Linked DNA regions of Homo sapiens. Changing the gene in region 2 together with the main gene of any one other region gives a genetic interaction. Each region holds a gene or a part of one and is shown on either strand. Other genes may lie near its edges. The genes, in order: SP1, IL22RA2 and STAT3.

The links.
Region 1: changes in IL22RA2 (region 2) and SP1 together harm fitness less than expected from each alone (positive genetic interaction), as found in Homo sapiens cells (one study listed by BioGRID).
Region 3: changes in IL22RA2 (region 2) and STAT3 together harm fitness more than expected from each alone (negative genetic interaction), as found in Homo sapiens cells (one study listed by BioGRID).

What each region holds. Positions count from the first base shown.
Region 1 is NC_000012.12:53,375,298-53,383,175, reverse strand, and holds the start of SP1 (transcription factor Sp1), read right to left. Parts: upstream 3,001-7,878; 5' UTR 2,885-3,000; coding exon 2,878-2,884; intron 2,533-2,877; exon of another isoform or gene 2,492-2,532; intron 1,518-2,491; coding exon 1,363-1,517; intron 1,067-1,362; coding exon 1-1,066. UniProt on the Homo sapiens protein: Transcription factor that can activate or repress transcription in response to physiological and pathological stimuli.
Region 2 is NC_000006.12:137,143,244-137,149,673, reverse strand, and holds the end of IL22RA2 (interleukin-22 receptor subunit alpha-2 isoform 1 precursor), read left to right. Parts: intron 1-1,782; coding exon 1,783-1,952; intron 1,953-3,900; coding exon 3,901-4,050; 3' UTR 4,051-5,854; downstream 5,855-6,430. UniProt on the Homo sapiens protein: Isoform 2 is a receptor for IL22. Binds to IL22, prevents interaction with the functional IL-22R complex and blocks the activity of IL22 (in vitro). May play an important role as an IL22 antagonist in the regulation of inflammatory responses.
Region 3 is NC_000017.11:42,385,381-42,393,354, forward strand, and holds the start of STAT3 (signal transducer and activator of transcription 3), read right to left. Parts: upstream 3,063-7,974; 5' UTR 2,899-3,062; intron 1-2,898. UniProt on the Homo sapiens protein: Signal transducer and transcription activator that mediates cellular responses to interleukins, KITLG/SCF, LEP and other growth factors. Once activated, recruits coactivators, such as NCOA1 or MED1, to the promoter region of the target gene.

The DNA.
Region 1 (7,878 bases), on a different chromosome or scaffold from region 2:
GTCCCCCTTGAACTAGCTGAGGCTGGATAAGAATTTGTTGCTGCTGTGTCTGCTGGTTTTGCTCTCCTTCTTTTTGCTGGCCTGCTTGCAATGAGCCTCCAGATGTCTGGTTTTGCTGGATGTTCAGAGCATCAGACCCCTGTAGCCCACTGACCCTCTGGGGTGTCTGGCCTTGAGAGTTGGTCCCTGATGATCCACTGGTAGTAAAGTTCATAATTCCCATGTTGCTGGTGGTAGTAGTAGTTGAGTAGCTATTGGCATTGGTGAAAAAGGAGCTGGAACTGGCTTGTGATGATACCAAGCTGGCAGAACTGATGGTAGTCCCTGAGGTGACAGGCTGTGAGCCACTCTCCTGGGACCCAGAGCTGCTGATCGTGACTGCCTGAGAGCTGGGAGTCAAGGTAGCTGCAGAAACGCTGTTGACAGGTAGCAAGGTGATGTTCCCATTCAGGGCCACTGGTACATTGGTCACATACTGAGTCTGTCCTGAGAGTACATTATTAGCCAGGCCTTGGAGGGGGACAGCCTGCTGGAGTAGGTTTGGCATAGCAGCAATGATGTTGCCTCCACTTCCTCGATTTGTGATAATCTGTTGGTTTGCACCTGGTATGATCTGTATTTGACCAGAACCATCCTGCTGCACTTGGGCCCCAGTGGCAGCAAACTGCAGCTGTTGCCCATCAACGGTCTGGAACTGTGGGATTACTTGATACTGAATATTAGGCATCACTCCAGGTAGTCCTGTCAGAACTTGCTGGTTCTGTAAGTTGGGAGCGGCAGCCACAACATACTGCCCACCAGAGACTGTGCGATTCTTGGAAGACTCACTGCCATTGCTGCCATTGGTACTGCTGCCACTCTGTTCCTTTGAGGTAGGGGTAGCCCCAGAGGAGGAAGAGATGATCTGCCAGCCATTGGCACCCTGTGAAAGTTGTGTGGCTGTGAGGTCAAGCTCACCTGTTCCCCCTGACTGACTCGGGCCCTGGGAGTTGTTGCTGTTCTCATTGGGTGACTCAATTCTGCTGCAAGTTGCTGCCAGCAGAGCCAAAGGGGATGGCTGGGACTCCTGGCCGAAAATAAGGGAGAGGAAAGGAGTTAGTGACACCCAGCTGCCAGCCTAGGGGGCAGTATACAACAAATAAACAGCAACGTAGTGCAGACAAGGAGCAAAAAACAGAAACAAAAAGCTGACCTATCTGTATTGCTGAAACTCCTTTGTCTTTGGGGATCTCCATTCTCTTACTTCCTTATCTATAAAATGGTTTAGTCTCTCCCTAAAACGCTTTCTGTGAAGAGTAAGGCAATTATCTAAGAATATTTACATCTTCTCAACACCTTCCCCACTCTATGATTATCACTTACCTGCCCTCCTCCTCCAGTGCTGCTGCTACTGCCTGTGCTGCTACTTCGAGCCTGTGAAAAGGCACCACCACCATTACCATTGCCCCCATTATTGCCACCAACTCCTTTTTCAATTTTCACCACAGCTGTCATTTCATCCATGGAGTGATCTTGGTCTAAAATAATTAAAAAACAAACAACGTAAACTTGAGGGAAGAAAAGAAATGAAGTAGGAAGGATAAAAGGAGGCTATGATGAAATAGCAATGACTAACAGGAAGGCGAAAGCCACCAGTATAAAGAAAATGGATTGGAGGGCAGAGGGGAGCTGCAGGGCATGCAGGACATGAACTAGGTTCAATGTGCCAAAAGTGGGCCTTAATTCTCCCTTGTACAAAATTAAACTAAGAAAACATTCAAAAAGTGCTTTGGGGATAGGAAATGTGAAGGACGGTAGGCATGGTGAGAGTTTCTAAATAAGAAAAAGTATCCTAAGGGAAAAAAAGGAAAAGGACAGGTAAGGCATAAAACAACATGTGGGTGCATGGAAAGCTTGCTAAAATTAAGTTTAAAAGAGATGGAGAGGCCAGGCGCGGTGGTCACGCCTGTAATCCCATTACTTTGGGAGGCGGAGGCAGGCAGATCACCTGGGGTCGGGAGTTTTGAGACCAGCCTGACCAACATGGAGAAACCCTGTCTCTACTAAAAATACAAAATTAGCCGGGTGTGGTGGCGCATGCCTGTAATTCCAGCTACTCCCGGAGGCTGAGGCAGGAGAATCGCCTGAATCCGGGAGGCAGAGGTTGCAGTGAGCCGAGATCGCACCATTGCATTCCAGTCTGGGTAACAAGAGCGAAAACTCCGTCTCAAAAAAAAAAAAAAAAAAAAAGACAAACAAAAATCCAAGTGTGAAAAGTAACGAGAGGGGAAAAAGAAGTAAAAAGTGTGAGTAGAAAAACATTTGTGAATACTGCTAAGGAACTAAAGGGATCTACAGGTTAGTAGTCAGAAGGTTTCGGGGCGGAGGGCGGGCCCTGAGGGAAAGGGCGGTTTCGGGGTGAGGGGCGTGGAAAGGGCGGGACGGTGGGGGGCGGGGGGGAAGGGAAATCTACGGAAAGTGGGGGGAGGAGGGCCTTGGAGCAGGCGGCGACCAGAGGGCGGACCAGGCAGGCGGTTGGCCCGGGCGGGGCCTTCGCTGCTCGGGCCGCCCCCGCGGCTCCAGCCCCCGGCGGGAGGAGCCTCAGGCGGGCGGCCGAGTAGTGGGGGGTAAGGCCCGTCCCCCGTGGCCGGGGCGGGCAGGGGGCGGGCGAGGCCACGCTGCCCCCTCCCCCGGGGCGGGCGGCCCATCCCCCTCCTCCTCGGAGGCCCCGCCACTGCCCCGTCTCCCTCCCTTCCCTCCGCCCCGGGCGGGACCTAGGCCGCCGCCGCCGCCGCCTCCCGCCCGCCCCCGCTTCACGGCGGGGATCGCCCGGTCGGCCCTCGCGCGCGCCCCCTCACTCGCCTCCCACCCCTAAGCTTGGAGTGGACTCATCCTTACCGCTCATGGTGGCAGCTGAGGGACAAGCTCAAGGGGGTCCTGTCCGGGGGGGTTGGGGGGGGCCGGGAAAAACGCGGACGCTGACGAGGCAAGCGAACCCGGACCGGACAGGGAGGGGGGGGTAAGGAGGAGGGAGCAGCGCGCCACAAGCCCAACCTAGGCCCCGCCCCTTCTCTGCTGCCCCGCCCAATGAGGGAGGGGGAAAGGAGGGACTTGCAGAAGAAAGACGGTGGAATTATCCAATGGCAAGACTCGCTTGCTCTCCAAGGCGTGTGAGACTAAGTTGCGTGCCTGGTGTCCGCCTAAAAAGACCGCCCTCTCAGTGTTAAAAGCCAATGAAGGATGCAGGAAGTGAAGATGGGCGGGAGCTGGAGATGATTGGCTTGGAAGGAAACCAGTCAACCGGCAGGCGGGCTCCCTGAGACGTAGGGATAGGCAAAGCTTTGATAGGAATGACAGAACAACGGCCAACCAGAATCCGGGATATGCTTGGGCAAAATCCTAGTGGGCGGAGAGGTAAGAAGTAGGCAGGAATAGGAGAGGATGAAGCTGATTAAAACCAATCAGAAATCAGGCGGGCAGCCAGGAACGTTATGATTGGAGTTAGACTGAAAAGAGACAGGAAAGGACGCATATTGACGTGAACTAAAAGCCAATTAAACGCCGAATTAACTGAGGGCGGAAACTTGGAGTGGCAGAGGAGAATTGGCGGCTCCCTCAGTTATTCAATCCAATGAGGGGACGAAGTAGGCCTGGCACCGCCTCCTAGTTAGCCAATGGGCGTTACTGGAGCTGCCCATCATGAGGGAGGGAAGAGGGCTATGCCAAGAGGAGACCGTCGCCATATTGGCCCTCCTCAGGGGACGTTGTTACAGTCATTAGGTGGGACGCTTTAGCGGAGTCCTGCAGCTCAACAGGTGTCAGAGCCAAGGCATTCGGCGCGCAGTTCCGCATCAACACTAGGACTTGTTTGCGTCTTCATTTAACTGCCCCTATAAAGTACCTCTCAAATCTTACCCCCCTCCCGGGTGGTCGGACAGGCGGGCAGATGCCTCAATGTCGCTGCAAGCCCTGGGAATGCAGGCGGGACGAGATCTGGTGACAGCACTCACCGAATAAGTTAATACTGAGCTGACCAATATGCAGAGTCTCCGTGAGACTCCAGAAAACGCGATTTTATTAAGTTCCCCCAGACAAAGGCGCTAACCACTTAAACGACTGGTTAACTTTTCAAGCCTTGAGGCTAAAGTGCGGATAAGTCACTTCCATTTTTTCCCCCTTAATAGTAAATACCGCCTATGCATAAAGCAAGATAGCTGAGCTCCAGCTTTTTGCAATCACGAAGGTTAAGAAACTTTACTGCAGGCACCTGGATTTCTGGCCTCCTCTTTATCCGTGTTTTGGTGGAGCCGGCCTTAATAGCTTGTCAATGACACGATGAGGTCATGTCCTTCAGTATTTGTATCTTATATGTTGTCACCTGCTTATATGTTCTTATGTTTTAAAATGTGAATTCTCCTAAACTATTTTAAGCCCTTTGAAGGTAAGAACTGAGGCCTCTGCTGCTTTAAACAGGTAAAAAGGTGAAGTGATTGCTGACTGCCTACCGTGTTAGGTGCCTAAGTCAGGGAGGCAGTTAGTATTCCATGTCATCCTTAAAAGGAAGATTTTATTAAGTATCAGCTATATTATGTATTTTATAAGTGAAGACATTTAGGCTGAGAAGTGACTTACCCAAGGTCACAAAGCAAATGAGTTGTAGTGTTAGATTCCAACCCAGAATAGTTCCACCAAAAGTTTTCTATAAATTCTTGAGGGAATTAAACTGCCGCCGGGCGCAATGGCTCAGACCTGTAATCCCAGCACTATGGGAGGCCGAGGCGGGCGGATCGCTTGAGCCCAGGAGTTAAAGACCAGCCTGGGCAACATGGTGAAACCCCGTCTCCACAAAAAATAACAAAAATTAGCCAGACGTGGTGATGTGCGCCAGTAGTCCCAGCTACTCGGGAGGCTGGGGTGGAAGAATCGCTTGAACCCAGGAGGTTGAGGCTGCAGTGAGCTCAAATCCTGCCACTGCACTCCAGCCAGGACAACAAAGCAAGACCTTGCTCCAAAATAAGTAAATATATAGACTGGGCGCGGTGGCTCATGCCTGTAATCCCAGCATTTTGGGAGGCCGAGGCAGGCGGATCACCTGAGGTCAGGAGTTCAAGACCAGCTTGACCAACATGGAGAAACCCCGTCTCTACTAAAAATATAAAACTAGCCAGGCATGGTGGGACATGTCTGTAATCCCAGCCACTTGGGAGGCTGAGGCAGGAGAATCGCTTGAATCCAGGAGGCAGAAGTTGTAGTGAGCCAAGATCGTGCCATTGCACTCGGGCCTGGGCAACGACAGTGAAACTCCATCTCAAAGAAAAAAAAAAAAGTAAATATATAGATGCTTTTTAATTTTTACTGTCTAGCTCCTGAAAAAAAAAAAAAAAAGCCTACTCCCAGGACGGATCAAATGGCATCATCCTCTTAGATACCTTTATTATAAAATTTATCAGAATACATGACAATTAATTTCATCTCTCACTGTATCAAGGTTTCTCAAAATGAAATGTCACACACTCTCAGAATCCTCTGGGTTCTTTTTTCAAAAAAGGCAGATTCCTAGATTTCCACCCTAAACCTATTTTTAAGTAGCTCTTTCAAGTGATTAGGCCCTAAACCTAGTTTAAAACACACCAAGAAGGCTGGGCGCAGTGGCTCATGCCTGTAATCCCAGCATTTTGGCAGGCAGAGGCGGGCAGATCACTGGAGGTCAGGAGTTCGAGACCAGCCTGACCAACATGGTGAAACCCCATCTCTACTAAAAATACAAAAATTAGTCGGGCGTGGTGGTGCATGCCTATAGTCCCAGCTACTCGGAAGGCTGAAGCAGGAAAATCGCTTGAACCTAGAGGCGGAGGTTGCAGTGACCGGGGATCATGCCACTGCACTCCAGCCTGGGCGACAGAGCAAGATTTGGTCTCAAAGAAAAGAAAAGAAAACAAAACAAAACAAAAACACCAAGAGAAGAAACTGGGGAAAAGAAACTTCCAGAAAGGGAGAAATTTCCTGGAAGGAAGAAACTGCATTACTCATCTTTGTAAACCAAGCTCTGAAGATTCTAATAGCTGTTTAGTCCATTCAGCAACTGTCCATACCTAAACTTGCTTAGGGGTGGAGGTAGGGAGAGGAAACTTAACACCGTGGAGGAGTATTCTAAACATTTCACATATTTATCTAATTTAATTATTCCTACCAATTTAAGAGATAGTTGTCCCCTTTTACAGATGAGAAAACTGAGGCTCAGATATTTTAGTTAAATTATGACTGTTCTGTTTAGTTCCAAAGCCTGTGTTTTTTCCATAGTCCTAGACTACACCCGAATTGGGAATTAGGATAAAATTAAACTGACAAAAAGACCTAAATTCAGAAATTCAATAGCCATCATCCTTTTTACAATCCTTTCCCCTTTGCTCCTCCAGAAGAAGACAATTCAGCATGAGGCCAGTGAGGAATGCCCTAGACGTATACTAGTTTATTGATAGTCCCTGAGAGCAAATGAATGACATGATCCATCTTGTCCAATTGCTCTGTAAAAACCTGAAAAAGTGTTCTTTAGACTGAAAAAAAAAAACAAAAACAAAAAAACCAACTTATATCAAGGCTATTCAGATCCCTTACATGCACACACGCAGTGTCTATCTTTTCTTTTTTTTTTTTGAGAGTCTCACTCTGTCTCCAAGCCTGGAGTGCAGTGGTGCGATCTCAGCTCACTGCAACCTCTGCCGCCCAGGTTCAAGTGATTCTCCTGCCTCAGCCTCCCAAGTAGCTAGGATTACAGGTGCACGCCACTATGCCTGGCTAATTTTTGTATCTTAGTAGAGATGAGATTTCATCATGTTGGCCAGGCTGATCTCAAACTCCTGACCTCAGGTGATCCTCTGCCCACCTCGGCCTCCCAAAGTGCTGGGATTACAGGTGTGAGCCACTGCGCCCGGCAATTTTTTTTTTTCCTGAGACGGAGTCTTGCCCTGTTTCCCAGGCTGGAGTGCAGTGGCGCGACTTTGGCTCACTGCAACCTCTGCCTTTCAGATTGAAGCAATTCTTTCTGCCTCAGCGTCCCTTGTAGCTGGGACTACAGACATGTGCCACCATGCCTGGCTAATTTTTGTATTTTTAGTAGAGACAGGGTTTCACCATGTTAGCCAGGCTGATCTTGAACTCCTGACCTGAGTTGATCTGCCCGCCTCAGCCTCCCAAAGTGCTGCGATTACAGGTGTGAGGCACTGCACCTGGCTACCTGGTTAACTTTTTGATGTTTTGTTGAGATCTCATTATGTGGCCCAGTTGGTGTTGAACTCCTGAGCTCAATCCCAAAGTGCTGGGATTACAAGCACGAGCCACCATGCCCTGCTTAAAATTCGTATCTTTTTTTTTTCTATACAGAGTCTCGCTCTATGGCCCACACTGGAGTGCAGTGGCGCGATCTCGGCTCACTGCAAGCTCTGCCTCCCGGGTTCACGCTATTCTCCTGCTTCAGCCTACTGAGTAGCTGGGACTACAGGCACCCATCACCACGCCTGGCTAATTTTTTGTATTTTTAGTAGAGACGGGGTTTCACCATGTTAGCCAGGATGGTCTCGATTTCTTGACCTCGTGATCCGCCCACCTCGGCCTCCCAAAGTGCTGGGATTACAGGCATGAGCCACCGGGCCCAACCATTTTTTTTTGTTGGGGGTACAGGGTCTCGCTCTGTTGCCAGGCTGGAGTGCAGTGGCGTGATCTTGGCTCACTGCAACCTCCGCCTCCTGGGCTCAAGCGATTCTCCTGCCTCAGCCTCCCAAGTAGCTGGGACTACAGGCGCACGCCACCACACCCAGCTAATTTTGGTATTTTTAGTAGAGACAGGTTTTCACCATGTTGGCCAGGATGGTCTTGATCTCTTGACCTTGTGATCCACCTGCC
Region 2 (6,430 bases):
GATCATTTTGACTATATTTTGGGGAACAGGTTGGATGCAGATAAGTGAAGTAGCAGGTTACTAATAATAGTCTACAGGAGACCGAATTTGGCTTATGAAAAGGACTAGAGAAAATTTATTCCTGGAGGGACATTTAGTAAGCAACATTGGCAGGACCAGGTGATAGATCGGATATAATGGTGAAGAGGACATGTCAAAGATGACCTCTAAGTTTCTTGCATGCATAATTAGATGAATTGCTGAGATCTTTTTGATGGGGTTTGATGAAAAAGACCAGTTTGGTGGGATGCAAGGTAATAGAGATTATGAGTTTGGTTTTGAATATGTTAAGCTTAATATGCTTTTAAGAGATCCAGGGGACATATCTCTTCAGATCCAAGACTCAAAGTAAAGTCTTTATTAGAGACAAAAATTTGTGAGTCATTTCATGCATACAGTACAGTGGACATTGATAGGATTGCCTAGGGAGAGAGTAGTGAGTGAGAGGCAGTTTTGAGTAAGACCAGATATTGAGGGACTTTCACCCAAAGATGCCTGAGTAAGAAAAATCTTAAAAGGAGACTGAGAAGGAATAGCCAAAGAGGTAGGAGGAAATCTGTGGGCTGATATGTTCATGAATAGTGCGGGAAGGTAATATTTCAAGGAGAGAGCTGTTAAAGAGTAAAGTGCTATGAGGTCAAATAATCTTGACTTGGTCTTGTAACACAATCACAATCCAGTGAATGGGTCAAGAAACTTGCAACTGATTGCAAAACTGATTTTGCAATCAATTGCAAAATCTAGCATCACAGATCATAAGCCAGGAGCCCTGTGATGTCCGCAGCTGACTCACTGATAGGACAATGCCTGAAATATGTGCCTCACTACAAAAGGGACATGTTTATTTAAAGTTAACTATCCCATTATTCCAATATAGTTGGAAAGTGCTTTAAAAACTTATGGTTCCAAATTAAATAGCCTGGGAGTAGGAAACTCTCTTCTTCTAAAACACTTAGAAATTCTGGATAAAACACATTCTCCAAACTCCACAGAGGGGCAAAAATAAAAATAAAGGGAATCCTTGGGGGCCAAAACAAAGTAAACGGAAATCAAAGGGGAACCAGAAGACCAACACAGTGACTGCCCCAGCTGCCCTGAAGGCATTTGCTGGATGTGGTAACTAGACCCTAAGTGGTAACAGCCACTCCCAGGACAAAAGACAAGGTTTTAGGCCAGCACAAGGCAGGGAGTTAGAACTAATACCCCTACAAAAGTCTTAGAACCTCCAAGGGCTACACTGTCAATAAAAAGTCAGACTAGCCTGGATGTGGTGGCATGCACCTGTAATCTCAGCTACTCAGGAAGCTGAAGGAGAATCACTTGAGTACAGGAGTTTGAGCCCAGCCTGGGCAACATAATGAGATCCTGTCTCAAAAAAAAACCCAAAACCAACCAACCAAACAAACAAACAAAAGTCAGATTAAGAAAAGCCCTTCCAATAAACAGAGGAAAGTAATTTGTATGTTTCCATCTTTATTCTGCTAAGAATCTAACACTCCCTACATTTATAAAGGTTCGAGATTCAAATACATATGCAATTTTCTTTTTTATTTTTGTTTTTTGACATGGGTTTCACTATGCCACACAAGCTATAGTGCAGTGGCATGATCATAGCTCACTGCAGCCTCGGCCTCCCTGGGCTCAGGTGATCCTCCCACCATGCTGATTTGTCATTATACATAATGCGTCTGTATATAATACATTCCTTTGATGATTTGTCAAATTTTTATGTTTTTTCTTCAGCAAAAATAGATCCTCCAGTCATGAATATAACCCAAGTCAATGGCTCTTTGTTGGTAATTCTCCATGCTCCAAATTTACCATATAGATACCAAAAGGAAAAAAATGTATCTATAGAAGATTACTATGAACTACTATACCGAGTTTTTATAATTAACAATTCACTAGAAAAGGTAAGTTCAGATGAATAGATATATTTAGAGTTTTTTTCTTTTGTTTATTTAACCAATATTGTGGTCATATGAGATGTCCTCTTCTGCTACTCTGCCTCCTCTTACTTTTCCTTATCTTTAATTTCTTCTTACTCTCAGCCATCATTGATCAACGGTTGGTGGTGGCATCACCATCAGAATGTGTGTGTGCCCTTTCCATCCTCCGGTTTGTCTCTACAGTCTTCCCTGCATATCTAAAGATTGGTATTAACCGTATTTAATTGCATGTGACTGCCACAAATATTCATTTTTACGGGCTTTGCACACCTTATTTATTTATTTATTTATTTATTTATTTATTTATTTATTATGTATTTTATTTTTAGACCAGGTGTCACTCTGTCACCCAGGCTGGAGTACAGTGGTGATCATAGCTCACTGTAGCCTCTAACTTCTGGGCTTAAGTGGTCCTCCTTCTTCAGCCTCCTGAGTAGCTGGGACTAGAAGCATGCCCATCACATCCAGCTTTTTTTTTTTTTTTTTTTTTTTTTTTTTTGTAGAGGCAAGGTCTCACTATGTTGCCCAGGCTGGTCTCAAACTCCTGGCCTCAACCAATCCTCCAGCCTTGGCCTCCCAAAGTGCTGGGATTGCAGGCATAAGCCACCTCCCCGGCCTCACACCTTATTTTAAAATAGCTTTTGAATCACATGATTATTTTTGTGCCAGTTTTGCTGCGATTTTTTTTTTGAGACAGGGTCTGACTCTGTCACCCAGGCTGGGGTGCAGCAGTGCAATCACAGCTCACGGCAGCCTCAACATCCTGGGCTCAAATGATCCTCCCACCTCAGCCTCCCAAGTAGCTGGGACTACAGGTGCATGCCACCATGCCCAGCTATGTTTTTTTGTACTTTTAGTAGGGACAGGCTCTGGCCATGTTGCCCGGGCTGGTCTTAAACTCCTGGGATCAACTGATCTGCCTGCCTTGGCCTCCCAAACTGCTGGCATTACAAACATGAGCCACCAGGCCTGGCCTTGCAGTGGTATTCTAATCCACCATCGGTGCTTCTGTCTGGATTTGGTGGATAATTGAATTTGTTCCTTTTTTGGTGCCATCTAAGATGAGGGGTTTTTGTCGTAAGGAGCAGAAACCACAGTTTAACTTGTTTAGAAACAAAAGAGGAGGGGAGGGATAATTAGGAGATAGGCAAGCAATCTCAGGGACAGAGGCAGGACGTAGAGTGCCGGCAGCCTTAGTGGTGACTGGGAAGGGAAACGGAAGTGAGTTCTAAGGGATCCTGCTCTGTCTCTCAGACTTTCTGTCTCTATGTGGCCACAGTTTCATGCCTGCAGTTATCTCTGCTCATCTCGCTGCACATCATTCTCACTGCACACTTCAAATTCTTAAAAAGAAGGCCAGGTGGGGTGGTTCATGCCTGTAATCCCAGCACTTTGGGAGGCTGAGGCAGGCAAATCATTTGAGGTCAGGAGTTCAAGACCTGCCTGGTCAACATGGTGAAACTCCATCTCTACTGAAAATACAAAAATTAGCCAGGCGTGGTGGTATGCGTCTGCAATCCCAGCTACTCAGGAGGCTGAGGCACGAGAATCTCTTGAACCTGAGAGGCAGAGGTTGCAGTGAGCCGAGATGGTGACACTGCACTCCAGGCTGGATGATGGAGTGAAACTGTATCTCAAAAAACAAACAAAATTCTTAAAAACAAGACTCTGACCATGGGGTCAACCAGCCAACAGCCCTCAAGGAGAAGTCAAGTTGCACCTACACAGCCACTTGCCTTGTCCCTTTACCAGGCTATGGCCTAGGACTCTAGAAAAGAAGGATGTGTCTGGGAAGAAACCCCACAACCCATCTACTGCTGTGACCATGTACAACTTGTTAATTTAAACAAAAATGCAGCTGTGACTTAATGGCAGCCATTTACCAACTGATTATTTTCTCTCTCGTGTGTAGGAGCAAAAGGTTTATGAAGGGGCTCACAGAGCGGTTGAAATTGAAGCTCTAACACCACACTCCAGCTACTGTGTAGTGGCTGAAATATATCAGCCCATGTTAGACAGAAGAAGTCAGAGAAGTGAAGAGAGATGTGTGGAAATTCCATGACTTGTGGAATTTGGCATTCAGCAATGTGGAAATTCTAAAGCTCCCTGAGAACAGGATGACTCGTGTTTGAAGGATCTTATTTAAAATTGTTTTTGTATTTTCTTAAAGCAATATTCACTGTTACACCTTGGGGACTTCTTTGTTTATCCATTCTTTTATCCTTTATATTTCATTTGTAAACTATATTTGAACGACATTCCCCCCGAAAAATTGAAATGTAAAGATGAGGCAGAGAATAAAGTGTTCTATGAAATTCAGAACTTTATTTCTGAATGTAACATCCCTAATAACAACCTTCATTCTTCTAATACAGCAAAATAAAAATTTAACAACCAAGGAATAGTATTTAAGAAAATGTTGAAATAATTTTTTTAAAATAGCATTACAGACTGAGGCGGTCCTGAAGCAATGGTTTTTCACTCTCTTATTGAGCCAATTAAATTGACATTGCTTTGACAATTTAAAACTTCTATAAAGGTGAATATTTTTCATACATTTCTATTTTATATGAATATACTTTTTATATATTTATTATTATTAAATATTTCTACTTAATGAATCAAAATTTTGTTTTAAAGTCTACTTTATGTAAATAAGAACAGGTTTTGGGGAAAAAAATCTTATGATTTCTGGATTGATATCTGAATTAAAACTATCAACAACAAGGAAGTCTGCTCTGTACAATTGTCCCTCATTTAAAAGATATATTAAGCTTTTCTTTTCTGTTTGTTTTTGTTTTGTTTAGTTTTTAATCCTGTCTTAGAAGAACTTATCTTTATTCTCAAAATTAAATGTAATTTTTTTAGTGACAAAGAAGAAAGGAAACCTCATTACTCAATCCTTCTGGCCAAGAGTGTCTTGCTTGTGGCGCCTTCCTCATCTCTATATAGGAGGATCCCATGAATGATGGTTTATTGGGAACTGCTGGGGTCGACCCCATACAGAGAACTCAGCTTGAAGCTGGAAGCACACAGTGGGTAGCAGGAGAAGGACCGGTGTTGGTAGGTGCCTACAGAGACTATAGAGCTAGACAAAGCCCTCCAAACTGGCCCCTCCTGCTCACTGCCTCTCCTGAGTAGAAATCTGGTGACCTAAGGCTCAGTGTGGTCAACAGAAAGCTGCCTTCTTCACTTGAGGCTAAGTCTTCATATATGTTTAAGGTTGTCTTTCTAGTGAGGAGATACATATCAGAGAACATTTGTACAATTCCCCATGAAAATTGCTCCAAAGTTGATAACAATATAGTCGGTGCTTCTAGTTATATGCAAGTACTCAGTGATAAATGGATTAAAAAATATTCAGAAATGTATTGGGGGGTGGAGGAGAATAAGAGGCAGAGCAAGAGCTAGAGAATTGGTTTCCTTGCTTCCCTGTATGCTCAGAAAACATTGATTTGAGCATAGACGCAGAGACTGAAAAAAAAATTTACTTTGATCTCTGTTTTTGAATTCTTATTATTTATATTTTGCTTACTACCTTTTTTGCCTTTTGTCCTTTTGTGGAGAGGGCGATGAATTAAGAGTAGTGGGGTGGGTGGCGAGTAAGTAAAATTTCAAATAGCATTTTAGTGAATGCAATTCAGTAGTCCTGAAGCCTGACTTAATAAAACAAAATTCATTTATGGTTGTTTCATGAAAGTTATTAGATAGGATCAAGTTTTGTTTGTATATTGTTTGCCTTGCTCTGTTTTTGCTTTTGTGCTTAGGCAAGTGCAAAATACTCTATGGAAATCATAATTGTCATCTTCTTCATGGTGTTAGGGATATATTGTCACATGATTTCAATAAATCCTTTTTTTGCTTTACATTTTGGAATATTTGTTATTTGAGCTTTTAAAAGAAGAACACAATGTTTAAGTCTGCCAGATGAAATTCCAGTTAAACATCTTAGGCCCACACGAAGTTCCAGCCAGGAAGGAGCAAACAGTTTTGAGCCCGACTGAGCTTGCCCTGTGATCAAATGCAATCCCAGTCTTACAGCTGCTCAGGCCAAAAGCGTTGAGGTTATCTTTGTCTCCCCGCTTTCTTTCACATCATATATATTCAATGCACCAATAAATTCTATTGATCTACCTCCAAAATACAACACTTCTCAGAACTACCTATTCCAGGCCACCATCATTTCTCCTCTGGATGGTCACTATGGTTACCTCATTGGTGTCCCCGCTCTGCTTGCCTCCCTCCAGTTTTGTCTTAACAAGGTGGCCAGCATGAGCCTTGGAACATAAATCAGATCATGTCACTTTCCTGCTCTAAAACCGCCAATAGCTTCCCATCTCATAAGGGTAAAAACCAAAGTCTTTATAATGGCCTCCAAGGCGCTGTATGATCTGTTTCCTTTCCTCATAATCTCCCAGGCCTCACTCCCTAATTCTCACCTT
Region 3 (7,974 bases), on a different chromosome or scaffold from region 2:
CACCTGTAATCCCAGCTACTCAGGAGGCTGAGGTGCGAGAATCACTTGAACCCGGGAGGAGGAGGTTGCAGTGAGCCACGATCATGCCACTGCACTCCAGCCTGGGTGATAGAGTGCAACTCCAACTCAAAAAAAAAAAAAAAAAAGTATATATTTGTTGATTTGCACATCACCTAAGAAAACCATAAGCTAAGAAGGTTTGGACTCAGGCGTCTGGAAAGTTGGTCACCACCTCTACCCCACCTCATATCTGAATGTCAAGAGACACGTAGAGGCAGAGAAGTTAAAGCAACTTTCTAGAGACAGAAATGACCACTGATCAAGCCACAATGCACTCTGGTTTAAATGACATTTAGGTCATGACTGTCCTTAATCTAAAACAAACCTAGATTAGTATTTCTTTTCATTAGTAAATAGCTAAATTCTGATGGTAAATTATGCTGACCAAAAACAGTTCCTCACTTCCCAAGTTAGACATAGCAATTAGAAAAATAATCTAAGCAAGCTCCATTTGTATTTCTTTTTTCACCTGTTTATTGAATATTTACCTCCCATGAAGTCTTTCAGCCTATTGGTGGTATTTTACTGTTCAGATATATGTTAGAATTTCACTGATACTTACTGGGCGCGGTGGCTCACACCTGTAATCCCAGCACTTTGGGAGATAGAGGTGGGCAAATCACAAGGTCAGGAGTTCAAGACCAGCCTGGCCAATATGGTAAAACCCCGGTCTCTACTAAAAATACAAAAATTAGCTGGGCGTGGTGGCGCACGCCTGTAGTCCCAGCTACTTGGGAGGCTGAGGCAGGAGAATCGCTTGAACCCAGGAGGCAGAGGTTGCAGTGAGCCAAGATTGCGCCACTGCACTCTAGCCTGGGCAACAGAGCAAGACTCTGACTCAAAAAAAAAAAAAAAAAGAATTTCACTGATACTTTTCACAAAATATACAGAAGGAGGCACAAATTCCACCACTATGGCACTCTGCTGCGTTGGCCAAGTGTCTTGATCCTTTGGCCTCAATTTTCTTATCTACGATATTAGGGTAATTGTTATGTGAACTACCCACCTCACAAGTCCTTTGTGGGTTAATTCATAACTGTGCTGTGGGTATTTCTTTTTCTTTCCTTTCTTCCTCCTTTCCTTTCTTTCTTTCTTAAAGATGGGTTCTCATTATGGTGCTTAGACTAGACTCTAGACCCAATTCCTGGCCTCTCACCATGTTGCCCAGACCAGACTCAACTCCTGGACTCAAGGAATCCTCCCACCTCAGCCTTCAATTAGCTGGGATCAGAGGTGTGCACCACCATGCCTGGCACTGTGGATATTTCTAAGTGATTATTCTTCTCAAATGAACTACATAAAAAACAAAAGATTCATGAATTTACTAATGGTTCTTTGTGATGGATGTGCTAATATAGAGACTAAAATCAAGGCTCCAACCTCTAAAACATTTTTTTTTAAATTCCAGACTTGTTTCCCCATCCCACTGTGCAAACTGAACAAAAACTGGGCTAGCACTCCTGTCTGGAACATGTAATAAGGAAATAAATGTGCTGACTCAGAGAACACAGACATATTTAATATAAAATAAGATAGAAAACTGGCTGAACCAAGTCATAACACAGTCTAAATCCACATATAAAAGATTGAGATGATTTTCTGCTTTGCTTTATTCAAGCCCAATGCTTTATCAGCACAGCCAGCCAAAAATTTACAACCCATACACAGACTATGTAAACCTTTAGTTGCACATACAGTAAGACCAGCAGGTACACACTATACACATTTTTAATTAAAAAAATGACTAACCACTGATTTTGTCACCACACTTAACAACGACCTGATATGGCACAGAGTGATGTGTACCAAACATGGAAATACCAACTTGGGCGACGGTTTGAATCTTGTTAACTTCAGTGCAACCACACCCCCCAAATGCATGTAAAGTTTGCACACATGGTTTTTTCAAGGCCAGCCTGTCTTTGTTTCCCTCTCCTCTGCATTTACCCAAGATCTTGGCTCTGAGACAGAAAACTCCCACTCTCAATTGGTTCATTCCGTCCTATGCAATTAAGCAACACCACAATCCAGTAAATGCAATGGCTCAATTATTTATCTTCTGGCCGACTTTACCAGGTATTTGGAAAAGGACAATGTCAAGAGGTTTATTTCTCTCTCTAGAGCTGGCTTGACGGGTTGATGGGGATTTTATTTTGTCTTTTTTTCTCTTTTTTACAAGGCGGGGACGTGGGGGGAGCATAATTTAACCTAGAAAAAGATGCGAGGGAATTTAGAAAGAGTACCGGTCTGTCAATTTCCCTACAGGAAACTTGATTCTTATGCAATAAAGCCTACCCACGACCAGCCAGCCCGTAAGGCTGCAGGCGACAGACACACCTATTCCTGCCTCCAAAAGGGCACAGCTGTCTCCTGAAGGAGCGGGAACAGGGCAAGCGGAGGAAGTGGCTCAGCGGGAGCCGCCGACCGGGCGGGGAGGAGGCGCTTTCCGACCCCCCACTCGCGCCGGTGATCCCCGTCGGCGTGACAGTCGCTCCGGTGGCCGGAACGTCCCCAGGGCCCCAGGGAGCAGGAAATCGGGGGACTGTCCCTCACTCCTGCCGCCGCAACCGAGTGCGCCCTCGCCCCACGGTGCCCCCTCGAGCGCGTTCTGTTTCTCCGAAGAACGAAACTTCCCTCCAGCGCCCCGAGTCCCTTCCGAGGCCCGCTCCTGTCATCCCGAAGAGTCTTCCCTCAGGGCGACCCTCCGCGTCTCTTCATCTCTCCCGGCCCCACTGCAGCGTCCATCACAACATCCCCAAGGTCCCAGAGGCCCCCTGCCGCTGCGGAGCCCCCGGGTCCCCAGGCCTCCCCAACGGCCCCACCCTGCACCCCCTTCACCTGTTTCTCCGGCAGAGGCCGAGAGGCCGGGGCTGCGCGTGTGCCGGGGACGGGCGGCGAGGCTCCCTCAGGCCGAAGGGCCTCTCCGAGCCGAGGGGGAGAGACAGCGCCAAGCCGGGGTGCCTGTCCAGGATCCGGTTGGGGCTTGTTCCCTCGGCTGCGACGTCGGAACCCCCGGCTCCCCCTCCCAGTCTGCGCCGCCGCAGCTCCGGAAACCGCTGAATTACAGCCCCTTCAGCCAATCCTCGCCCAGCCCCAGCCTGGCCGAGGCACGCCGTCATGCATAATTCATGAAAGGCCAGCTCGTTCGGCCACCCAGAGGTCCCAGTGCGTGTGCGGTACAGCCGAAGCCCCGCCCACTGACCAATGAGGAGAGCAGCTAGGAGAAAGGGCGGAGCCAAGAGGAGACTGATACGCCCCTGTGCTGGCTGTTCCGACAGTTCGGTGCTCCTCCCTCCGCCACAGCGAGGGAAGAGCCGAGGACTTGGGCACAGAAGCCCGGGGGGAGGGAGGGAAGATGACCGGAATGTCCTGCTGAAAACTCAGCTGAGTTCCTGGCAGTGCGTGACGTCAAGGCACTTTAAATGCCCCTGATACAGCTCCCTCCTGCCCGCTCTCCCTTTTCCCGGCCCTTGGCACCACGTGGTGGCGAGGTTGAGAGCCTCTTACCACGCGGGAATCAGCTAGTTAGATAGTCCCCAGGTATCTCCAGATCCTCTGGGGACCCAACTCCTGAATTGGGTTCTGGGGACAACAAAAAGAACATGGGTGACTCCGCCTGCTTTGAACTTCAGTTTCTGCGTGAGCAGGGACACACACACCCGGAAACATGACGTGGAAATAGAGTAATTACTAGAGTGCGTGGGGAGAGGGTAGTGGATTTAACCCCGTACTCCGTTCCATCACTTCAAGCATCAAACGCCGACCAGCTAGCCCATTGGCCCGTACAGGCGAATGCAGAAGACGGTGTATACGAAAGCTGATAACGTGTAGGGCTTGACATTTTTATGCGTCTGAATTGAAATACATGAAATGTTCTGCCTTTTTCTTTTCCACCTTGCCTACTTGGTATGCAAGTTTTACTGAATTGAAGCCAGTGGTTGATAGGAAATGTAGACATTTTGCCTTTCATAATAGAGGATGAACTTTGCATAATGGAGTGATTTCTGTGTATGTGCTGATACTATCAGGGTTTTTAATTTTTATTTTTTTGGGTCTTTAAAAATATGTTATTAATATTTGTGTTTGTTTAATACGAACAGGTATAAAGACAAAAATCTAAAAAGGACCCATTATCTCACTGCTCAGCTAACCCCTGACATATTTTTTTTCAATGAACCTAATACATGTTCCTGTTTAGAAAATGCAGACCGTTCAGAAAGGTCAAAAATATTAAATGAAAATCTTTCCCTACCCCCATCATTCCTTCTCCCCAAGGATAGCTGTTCTTATTAATTTCTAGTGAGAAAAATCAATGACTCTTAACCTTTGAAGGCAGTCACAGATCCTTCTGAGTGTTTGAAGGAGACTAGATTCTAGCCCCAGAAACAATACAAGGTTTTACTCACATGGTTCCCCAGATACCTGAAGCCTGTCTAAGTCTACAGATTCAGACCGCTCGTACCACCTCATATCCAATGAGGGACAGAGGCATCTACAGGGCAATTCATAGGGTCACTGGTGGTGAGAATTGAGAACCTCCTATTGCCCTCTGGTAGACACAGCTCAGTATGGAAATTGCTGTATTTACCTGTAGAGTGTGTGTGTATTGATTAGGCTGTTTATCTACACCACAGGACAGATATCCCCCATCTCCGCCTATAGTCTCTTGTAACTACGCTATCCCGTGCGGCCAACTGCCTCCCTGATAACATAGGGTCTAGGATTTGTTTAGTGATTTACTGCTTACAAAGGACTTACACACCTTATACACTCCCTGCCTGGTTTCTTTCTCACAATCATGAATAGCAGATAGGAGAGGCCATATTATCCGCTGATAGAAAACTAAAGACAACATAATATGACATTTTCAAGATCACAGAGAAACTCAGAAATATACCAGGTTCAGAGTCAGGTTTGGGGGCTTTACGTCCCATAGCTTTGTTCCATTCATTCAAACCCTGCCCTGCTTCTGACTTCTCAAGAGCTGGCCTCTGTTTCCCTCATTGGCCTCCCCACCAGTAACACATAAAATCTACCTCTGCGACTATGGGTTTGACCTGCAAAAATTCTCTTCAGCCCAGACACTGGCCTTTCTCCACAACCCCGCCAAATTCCTCTTGGCTAAATGCTGCAATTTCTGTCCCTTGGGCCACTGCCTTAACCACCTGATTATTCTCTCCTTATTCTATCCTATTCTTCCACTGGCTGCCAGGGACATCATCCTAAAAATTAAATAAATAAACATTCAGGCCAAGGCGGGTGGATCACAAGGTCAGTTCAAGACCAGCCTGGCCAACACAGTGAAACCCCGTCTCTACTAAAAATACAAAAATTAGGCTGGGCACTGTGGCTCACGCCTGTAATCCCAGCACTTTAGGAGGCTGAGGCGGGCAGATCACCTGAGGTCAGGAGTTCGAGACCAGCCTGACTAATATGATGAAACCCTGTCTCTACTAAAAATACAAAAATCAGCCAGTCATGGTGGCTTGCACCTGTAATCCCTGCTACTCGGGAGGCTGAGGGAAGAGAATCTCTTGAACCCGGGAGGTGAAGGTTGCAGTGAGCCGAGATCGCGCCATTGCATTCTAGCCTGGACAACAAGAGCGAAACTCCATCTCAAAACAAAAGTAAAAATTAGCTAGCCATGGTGGCACGTGCCTGTAGTCCCAACTACTCAGGAGGCTAAGGCAGGAGAATTGCTTGAACCCAGGAGGTGGAGGTTGCAGTGAGCCCAGATCCCTCCACTGCACTCCAGCCTAGGCGATAGAGCAAGACCCTGGCTCAAAAAAAAAAAAAAAAAAAAATTCAATCATGTCACAGTCGGCTTAAAAATCTCTATGGTTCCCTACTACCGGCAAGATAAAATCCAAGTTAATTTTTTTTTTTTTTTTTTTTTTTGAGACAGAGTTTCCTCTTGTCGCCTAGGCTGGAATGCGATGGTATGATCCTGGGTCACTGCAACCTCCGCCTCCCAGGTTCAAGCAATTCTCCTGCCTCAGCTTCCCAAGTAGCTGGGACTACAGGTGCCCACCACCATGCCCAGCTAATTTTTGCATTTTTAGTAGAGACGGGGTTTTACTGTGTTGGCTAGGCTGGTCTTGAACTCCTGACCTCAAGTGATCCGCCCACCTCAGCCTCCCAAAGTGCTGGGAGCCACCGTGTCCGGCCAATCCAAGTTAAATTTTAAAAATGCTGACCAGGCACAGTGGCTCATGCCTGTAATCCTAAAGCTTTGGGAGACCGAGGCAGGAAGATCATTTGAGGCCAGGAGTTCGAGATCAGCCTGGGCAACATGGCAAAACACCAACTTTACAAAAAATTAGCCGGGCGTGGTGGTGGCATGCCTGTAGTCCCAGCTATTCTGAGGACTGAGGCAGGAGGATCACTTGAACTTAGAAAGAAGTTCGAAGTTACAGTGAGCTATGACTGTTCTACTGTACTGTAGTCTGAGCAACAGAACAAGACCAACCTTGTCTCAAAAACAAACAATAAACAAAAAGCTGACCATTTAATTCAGTGCCATGGCTGGGCGCGGTGGCTCATGCCTGTAATCCCAGCATTTTGGGAGGCCGAGGCGGGCGAATCCTGAGGTCAGGAGTTCGAGACCAGCCTGGCCAACATGATGAAACCCCGTCTCTACTAAAAATACAAAAAAATTAGCTGGGCATAGTGGCGGGTGCCTGTAATCCCAGCTACTTGGGAGGCTGAGGCAGGAGAATCGTTTGAACCCGGGAGGCAGAGGTTGCAGTGAGCCGAGATCATGCCACTGCACTCCAGCCCAGGCAACAAAGTGAGACTCTGTCTCAAAAAAAAAAAGAAAAAAGAAAAAAACACCATAATTCAGTGCCATGCATGTGGTAGGAGCTCAATTGATGTTCCTTCTTTCTCCCTCTTTATTTGAATCATAAAATCCTACAGGCCCAGCACAGTGGCTCACGCCTGTAATCTCAGCACTTTGAGAGGCCGAAGCGGGTGGATCACCTGAGGTCAGGAGTTCAAGACCAGCCTGACCAACATGGTGAAAGTCTGTCTCTACTAAAAATACAAAAATTAGCCAAGCGTGTTGGCGGGCACCTGTAATCCCAGGTACTCGGTAGGGTGAGGCAGAAGAATCGCTTGAACCCAGGAGACAAAGGTTGCAGTGAGCTAAGATTGCACCATTGCAATCCAGCCTGGGTAATACAGTGAGACTCTGTCTCAAAAAAAAGATAAATTCCACAAAGGCTGACCTGAATCCCCCCTTTTCTAACCTAGTCCCACAAACCCTACTAAATGTGTTACCTTCCTCCAAACATGTCTACACCTTCTGCAACTTCATGCCTCTGTGGATAGTCTTCCTTCTACCTGGAATCTCTTTCCTCAGTCCCTACCTGAGAACTCTTACTCATTCTTCAAAGCCCTGTTGCAACATCACCTCCTCTAGGCTTCCTTCTATTCTTACTGGCAAAGTTAATCTCCTACCAGACTCCTTCGGCAGGTTGTTTCCCCATCTAGAATACATTCTCTACCTTGAATTCTAATAAATCCACATATTGGCCTACTTCCTGAAAAAAAACAATAATTAACATTGATTAAGTAATTACTACTATATTCCAGGAACTGTGCTAAGCATTTTACATAGATTATCTCATTTGATCCTCACCAGAACCCAGTGAGGGTAATATTATAATTCTTATTTTACAATTGAGGAAACGAAGACTGAGAAAGTGAAAGACTGGCTCAAGACTGGTCTCACAGCTAGAAACTAGGTGGAAACTCAGAATGAAAATCAGGTCTGGCTGACTCTCTGGCCACGTGCTAACAAACATCTTCCCCTAAACTGTGGGTTCCTGGAAACTTGAACCCCTTAAGCCCTGTCTTCATAATCTCAGCATCTATCATCTAGCCTAGAGCTCACCTAAGACTGAATTAATT